Linked DNA regions of Homo sapiens. The protein of the gene in region 1 purifies or fractionates together with the protein of each later gene. This does not show direct contact. Each region holds a gene or a part of one and is shown on either strand. Other genes may lie near its edges. The genes, in order: PRUNE2 and EIF2A.

The links.
Region 2: the proteins of PRUNE2 (region 1) and EIF2A fractionate together in Homo sapiens (co-fractionation; one large-scale study listed by BioGRID). This does not show direct contact.

Annotation. Positions count from the first base shown.
Region 1 is NC_000009.12:76,703,337-76,707,165, reverse strand, and holds part of PRUNE2 (protein prune homolog 2), read left to right. Parts: coding exon 1-2,405; intron 2,406-3,066; coding exon 3,067-3,829. UniProt on the Homo sapiens protein: May play an important role in regulating differentiation, survival and aggressiveness of the tumor cells.
Region 2 is NC_000003.12:150,577,533-150,581,361, forward strand, and holds part of EIF2A (eukaryotic translation initiation factor 2A), read left to right. Parts: intron 1-3,829. UniProt on the Homo sapiens protein: Functions in the early steps of protein synthesis of a small number of specific mRNAs. Acts by directing the binding of methionyl-tRNAi to 40S ribosomal subunits.

The DNA.
Region 1 (3,829 bases):
GGTGGCCAACTGCCACGTTGCTGAGGATGAATCCAGAGCTTGGGATTCATTGAATGAATCTAATAAGTTCTTGGTCACAGCTGATCCTAAGTCTGAAAATATTTATGACTACCTAGACAGCTCAGAGCCAGCAGAGAATGAGAATAAGTCAAACCCATTCTGTGACAATCAACAAAGCAGCCCTGATCCCTGGACTTTCTCACCATTAACGGAGACTGAAATGCAGATTACAGCAGTGGAGAAGGAGAAGAGATCTTCTCCAGAAACAGGGACAACAGGAGATGTTGCATGGCAAATATCTCCCAAAGCTTCGTTCCCAAAGAACGAAGATAATTCTCAACTGGAAATGCTGGGCTTCTCAGCTGATAGCACTGAGTGGTGGAAGGCCTCACCCCAGGAAGGGAGACTAATTGAAAGTCCATTTGAAAGGGAGCTGTCTGACTCCAGTGGTGTGTTGGAGATAAATTCTTCAGTACACCAAAATGCCAGTCCCTGGGGAGTACCAGTTCAGGGTGATATTGAGCCCGTGGAAACACACTATACTAATCCTTTTAGTGACAACCATCAGTCACCCTTTCTGGAAGGTAATGGGAAGAACTCCCATGAGCAACTCTGGAACATTCAACCAAGGCAGCCAGACCCAGATGCTGACAAGTTCAGCCAGCTTGTAAAATTAGACCAAATTAAAGAAAAGGACTCAAGAGAGCAAACCTTTGTGTCTGCTGCTGGTGATGAGCTGACTCCTGAAACACCTACCCAAGAGCAGTGTCAGGACACCATGCTGCCAGTCTGTGATCATCCGGACACAGCCTTTACTCACGCAGAGGAAAATAGTTGTGTTACATCTAATGTTTCAACTAATGAAGGTCAAGAAACAAATCAGTGGGAACAAGAAAAATCATACCTAGGTGAGATGACAAATTCAAGCATTGCCACAGAAAATTTTCCTGCTGTCAGTTCTCCCACCCAACTGATAATGAAGCCAGGCTCTGAATGGGATGGCTCTACCCCAAGTGAGGACTCCCGAGGTACCTTTGTGCCAGATATTTTACATGGCAACTTTCAAGAGGGTGGGCAGCTGGCCTCTGCCGCGCCTGACTTGTGGATAGATGCTAAGAAGCCCTTCAGTTTGAAAGCAGATGGTGAGAATCCTGATATCCTGACGCACTGCGAACATGACAGCAATTCTCAGGCTTCCGACAGCCCTGATATATGTCACGATTCTGAAGCAAAGCAAGAGACTGAGAAGCACCTCAGTGCTTGCATGGGACCTGAAGTGGAATCCAGTGAGCTTTGTCTCACTGAGCCAGAGATAGATGAAGAACCCATTTATGAGCCTGGACGGGAGTTTGTCCCATCCAATGCAGAACTCGATTCTGAAAACGCAACTGTGCTGCCTCCAATTGGCTATCAAGCAGACATAAAGGGCTCCTCTCAGCCCGCCTCTCATAAAGGTTCACCTGAACCTTCTGAAATAAACGGTGACAACAGTACAGGTTTACAAGTATCAGAAAAAGGAGCCAGCCCAGATATGGCACCAATTTTGGAACCAGTTGACAGAAGAATCCCAAGGATTGAAAATGTGGCAACTAGCATTTTTGTAACTCACCAAGAGCCAACTCCAGAAGGTGACGGTTCTTGGATATCAGACAGCTTTTCTCCTGAAAGTCAGCCTGGTGCAAGAGCTTTGTTTGATGGTGATCCACATTTATCCACAGAGAATCCTGCCTTGGTTCCTGATGCTTTGCTAGCCTCAGACACTTGTCTGGATATAAGCGAAGCTGCCTTTGACCACAGTTTCAGCGATGCCTCAGGTCTCAACACATCCACGGGAACAATAGATGACATGAGTAAACTGACATTATCCGAAGGCCATCCGGAAACGCCAGTTGATGGGGACCTAGGGAAGCAAGATATCTGCTCATCTGAAGCCTCGTGGGGTGATTTTGAATATGATGTAATGGGCCAGAATATCGATGAAGATTTACTGAGAGAGCCTGAACACTTCCTGTATGGTGGTGACCCTCCTTTGGAGGAAGATTCTCTGAAGCAGTCGCTGGCACCGTACACACCTCCCTTTGATTTGTCTTATCTCACAGAACCTGCCCAGAGTGCTGAAACAATAGAGGAAGCTGGGTCTCCAGAGGATGAATCTCTGGGATGCAGAGCAGCAGAGATAGTGCTTTCTGCACTTCCTGATCGAAGAAGTGAGGGAAACCAGGCTGAGACCAAAAACAGACTGCCTGGATCCCAGCTGGCTGTGCTGCATATTCGTGAAGACCCTGAGTCCGTTTATTTGCCGGTAGGAGCAGGCTCCAACATTTTGTCTCCATCAAACGTTGACTGGGAAGTAGAAACAGATAATTCTGATTTACCAGCAGGTGGAGACATAGGACCACCAAATGGTAAGAAACATTCCATTCTTCCACTTCCAAGAAACTGCTGCGTTGATTAAACTAGTGCATATTTGTAAGACACACTCTTCCTACCAATGAGGGTAGAGAGAAAACTAACTACATTTTCAAGGCATGCCTCACTAAGTCCTGTATTATAACAGCAGTAAAATCTAGTGCATATGTAATACCTATTCCTGATAGTGCACGAGAAAATCGAATGACTCTACAAAATAAAAATATTTTCTAGCTGGGCGCGGTGGCTCACGCCTGTAATCTCAGCACTTTGGGAGGCCAAGGAGGGGGGATCACCTGATGTCAGGTGTTCGAGACCAGCCTGGGCAGCATGGTGAAACCCCATGTCTACTAAAAATACAAAAATTAGCTGGGCGTGGGGGCAGGTGCCTGTAGTCCCAGCTACTCGGGAGGCTGAGGCAGAAGAATAGCTTGAAACCAGGAGGTGGAGGTTGCAGTGAGCCGAGATCACACCATTGCACTCTATCCTGGGTGACAGAGCGGGACTCTGTCTCAAATGAATGAATGAATAAATAAATAAAATATATAAAAAATATTAAATTACCTCTTTTAGATGATCATTTGCAAGGATCACAAATCACACAATGTGTTAATTAAACCTTTTTCTCCTCTTCTCACTTTCAACTTCCACTTCTAGGTGCCAGCAAGGAAATATCAGAATTGGAAGAAGAAAAAACAATTCCTACCAAAGAGCCTGAGCAGATAAAATCAGAATACAAGGAAGAAAGATGTACAGAGAAGAATGAAGATCGTCATGCACTACACATGGATTACATACTTGTAAACCGTGAAGAAAATTCACACTCAAAGCCAGAGACCTGTGAAGAAAGAGAAAGCATAGCTGAATTAGAATTGTATGTAGGTTCCAAAGAAACAGGGCTGCAGGGAACTCAGTTAGCAAGCTTCCCAGACACATGTCAGCCAGCCTCCTTAAATGAAAGAAAAGGTCTCTCTGCAGAGAAAATGTCTTCTAAAAGCGATACGAGATCATCTTTTGAAAGCCCTGCACAAGACCAGAGTTGGATGTTCTTGGGCCATAGTGAGGTTGGTGATCCATCACTGGATGCCAGGGACTCAGGGCCTGGGTGGTCTGGCAAGACTGTGGAGCCGTTCTCTGAACTCGGCTTGGGTGAGGGTCCCCAGCTGCAGATTCTGGAAGAAATGAAGCCTCTAGAATCTTTGGCACTAGAGGAAGCCTCTGGTCCAGTCAGCCAATCACAGAAGAGTAAGAGCCGAGGCAGGGCTGGCCCGGATGCAGTTACGTTGCAGGCTGTCACCCATGACAATGAATGGGAAATGCTTTCACCACAGCCTGTTCAGAAAAACATGATCCCTGACACGGAAATGGAGGAGGAGACAGAGTTCCTTGAGCTCGGAACCAGGATATCAAGACCAAATGG
Region 2 (3,829 bases), on another chromosome or scaffold:
TATCGCTATGTTTTTCAAGCAGGAAATGGGAGTAGGTTTTTTTGGTTTGGTTTTGGCTTGGTTTTTTTTTTTGAGACCGAGTTTTGCCATGTTGCCCAGGCTAGTCGCAAACTCCTGAGCTCAAGCAGTCTTTCCACCTCAGCCTCCCAAAGTGCTTGGATTACAGGCGTGAGCCACTGTGCCCATCCTAGAAAGGGCAGATTTTTAACAGCTGGTTGCTATATCAGTATAGTCTTGCTGATAATTCTTGAATTTTGACAGGTCTAGGCTGGTTATGTGTTTTGGGAGGCAGTTACTATTTTAAGGTATAGAATTGTATTATGCAACCATATTCTGCTAAAATCTGGACTTTTAGAAAAACCATTCTGTTCATTTGTAGTTAATATGTTTCATCCCCAGAAGTATCTTAATTGGTCAGCTTTAGGTTATTCCAAGTAAAAATGATCTATTCCATGCATTTGATATTAGATTTGTATAAAAGCAAGTCTTGTCCCTTCATCAGTACAAGTAGGGACCTCTACTGGCCCTGGATATTACAACTCATTAGTAGTATCCTTAACAACTTGATAACTAAGATGCCCTTTGAGTTTTAGGGCCTCTCTGAAACGCACTCAACTTAGAATTCTATTTTTATAAGCAAAGTTTCTTCCACTTTATCAAAAGATATTTTTAATATGACCATTGGTGATACTGGACTAAGATTCCTTTATACTTATTATATAAATAATTACTTACATAATTACATATGATTATAATTATTAATAATTATAACCATTAATTAATATACTAAATTATAATTGTATTAATTATATAAATAATATACAAATTCTATTAGTTTATACATTTTATAATATAAATTATGTGATAATTTCACATTTAATTAATATAATGAAATTATTATTATAAATAATAGTTATTTGTAACTCTGTTATAAATGTGTAACTCTTTATAGCTCATGGTAATAGTGTGATCAGCTGGGCTGATCAGTTATAAATTTACAACTCTCAGTTATATGTTTATACCTGTCAGTTTTTTTTAAAAGAGCCAATACAGTCATCAAGCACCTACACACGTTTTTTACTAAAGATGATACCAAAGGTGATACCAGTAATCCCTCATTGTGGAATTGCTTTTTGAGTTGTTTTTCCAGTAATAGCAAAGGTTTTCAACTTGCAAGATAAACTATTCAGTATGTATTTTGGGGACGACTGGCTGAAGTTAGTAAAAGTTGTGGCTGTGTGATGGAACAAAGCTAAATGGCCCTTGACAGAATCTCACCTTATCCAGACCTTCTTAGTCCTGACTCTGAAGTAAATAGTCAAAGATAGAGCAGTCAGATATATGTAATCTAACTAGTATTTTTGTAAACTGGTGATAATTTTATAAGTTTGTTGACTTTACCAAAAAAGAGTTGAAACATAAGAATTTAATCTTACCATATATACGTCCTTTCTAGAGAATGGCTAGAATTTAAGTATAATAATGCAGACATTTCAACTTGTTCTTGGTTAGTTTGTGGGGAAAAATAAATTTTATATATCACTTAATTTTAATGGTTTTTCACATGATAAGATTAACCTTTCTTCCTAGAGAGCTATATTCTTAGCTCATTACAAACAACTAAAATTTTATATTTTTAAAATCTGATATCAAAAGTGAATTTTGATAGGCAGAATATCCCCTCTTCTTTTATTTACTCTTCTACTTTAATTTTATATTGTGAAAAATATAAAACTGCCTATTACCAGAACTTACAGGCTCCTTAAGAGGAGAAACTTAATATTTTCTTTCGAATTCTCAAAGTGCCCAGTAATTTGTTTTCATGTAGAAGGTAAATAATTGTTTATTAAATAGTACCAAAAAGTGAAACCAACATGACTTTAAAAAGAAAAATTGGCTGGATGCAGTGGCTCACACCTGTAATCCCAGCACTTTGGGAGGCCGAGGTGGGTGGATCACCTGAGGTCTGGAGTTCGAGATCAGCCTGTCTAACATGGTGAAACCCCATCTCTACTAAAAATACAAAATTAGCTGGGTGTGGTAGCAGGTGCCTGTAACTGTAATCCCATCTACTTGGGAGGCTGAGGCAGGAAAATCGCTTGAACCCGGGAGGTGGAGGTTGCAATGAGCTGGAATCGTGCCACTGCACTCCAGCCTAGACTCTGTCTCCAAAAAAAAAAAAAAAGAGAAAAATTGACTTCAATTCTGTATTTTCTAAAAACTCTTAGGCAGACTTTTAGAGTTGAATATCTAGAAGTGATACCCTATTCTATGTTCCCTGAGGATCTGAGGATGCTTTAAAAGTTCAGAGTATCCTACCCAGAACTCTGAGTAAAAGGTTATGGAGACCTGGAGCATTATATATATATTCCACTGGAAATTCTATAAGAAGTAGAAACCCTACGTTGGAGCCAATAAATACTTACATAATTTTTTCCCCTCTTACCAAAATATATATCTTGTCATAATTATAAAGGAAGAGTCATTCCTTTATTTTTTATTTATTTAGCCTGTGCAACGAAGCAAGTATTATGCTAGAGGCTCAGTTCTAATGGGGAATGGTAGAATATGGTGTTACCGTAGGGAAAAATACTGGGCATTATGAGAGCCTGGGAAAGGTGCGACTATCCAGTCTTAAGGTGGGGAGATTTTCCAGAAGACTTAAAGGATAAGTAGGGTTCAGCCAGGTGACTTGTGGGGGAAGGTGTTCTAGGCACAAGGAACAATATATAGTAGTCTCCCTTTATCCTGGAGGGGCAGAGCTATGCCTGAAACCACAGATAGTACCGAACCCTATAGAGACTGTGATACACAGTAAGAGATTAACAGTAACTCATAAGAAAATAGAGCAATTATAATAATATACTGTAATAAAAGATATGTGAATATGGTCTCTCAAAATATCTAATGGTGTTGTATTCACCCTTTTTGCGACAATGTGAGATGGTACAATGCTTGTGTGGTAAGTTGAATGACCACGGCTATAACTTGCAGTTCAAGGCGCAACTGCAAAACTAGCACTAATCTCTTTTTTCTTCTTCCCAAGTTCATGGATAGGTTTAATCTTACTGTAAATCATAGCAAATCAGCATACAATATTTTTTATTCCTTATTAAGAACTTTCACCTTTTCACTTAAAGGGAGCACTTTACGGCTTCTCTTTGGCATATCCGAATTGCCAGCATCACTACTCTGCACTTTGGGACCATTATTAAGTAAAATAAGGGTTACTTAAACACAACTACTGTTGATACTGTGACAGTCGATCTGATAACCAACACAGCTACTAGTGAAAAATAGGTGGGGAGCGAATACACTGTGGATACACTGGATAAAAGAATGATTCTCGTTCTAGGCAGGATGCTGAGAGATTTCATCACACAGCTTAAAACTTATGAATTGTTTATTTCTGGGATTTTCCATGTAATATTTTTGGGCTGCAGTTGACGCTTGGTTACTGAAACCATGGTTAAGGGAGACTGCTGTACACAAAGGCCAGGGGCAAGAGTATACAGCACCTTAGCGGAAATAAAAGTGATTCAGAATCAGTGAGGAGGGACAAGAAAAGTTATCAGAGGTCTGATCATATTGGAAGCATTATGGCATCCCTTTAAGGGGAAAAAAGTTTTGTGGTACTTTGTTGCAGAGCTGAATTGATCTGATTATAAATTAATATCTGTAGGATTCTTATTCTTGTAGCATAATCCATTACAGGTACTTGATCATACATATTCTTTATAGTTTTGGAGAGAGCCTTGTAAGAGTGAAACTTTAAACACCTTAAATAGAAAAGCCCTCTCATATGTTCAAACCATCTATCTACTGGCAC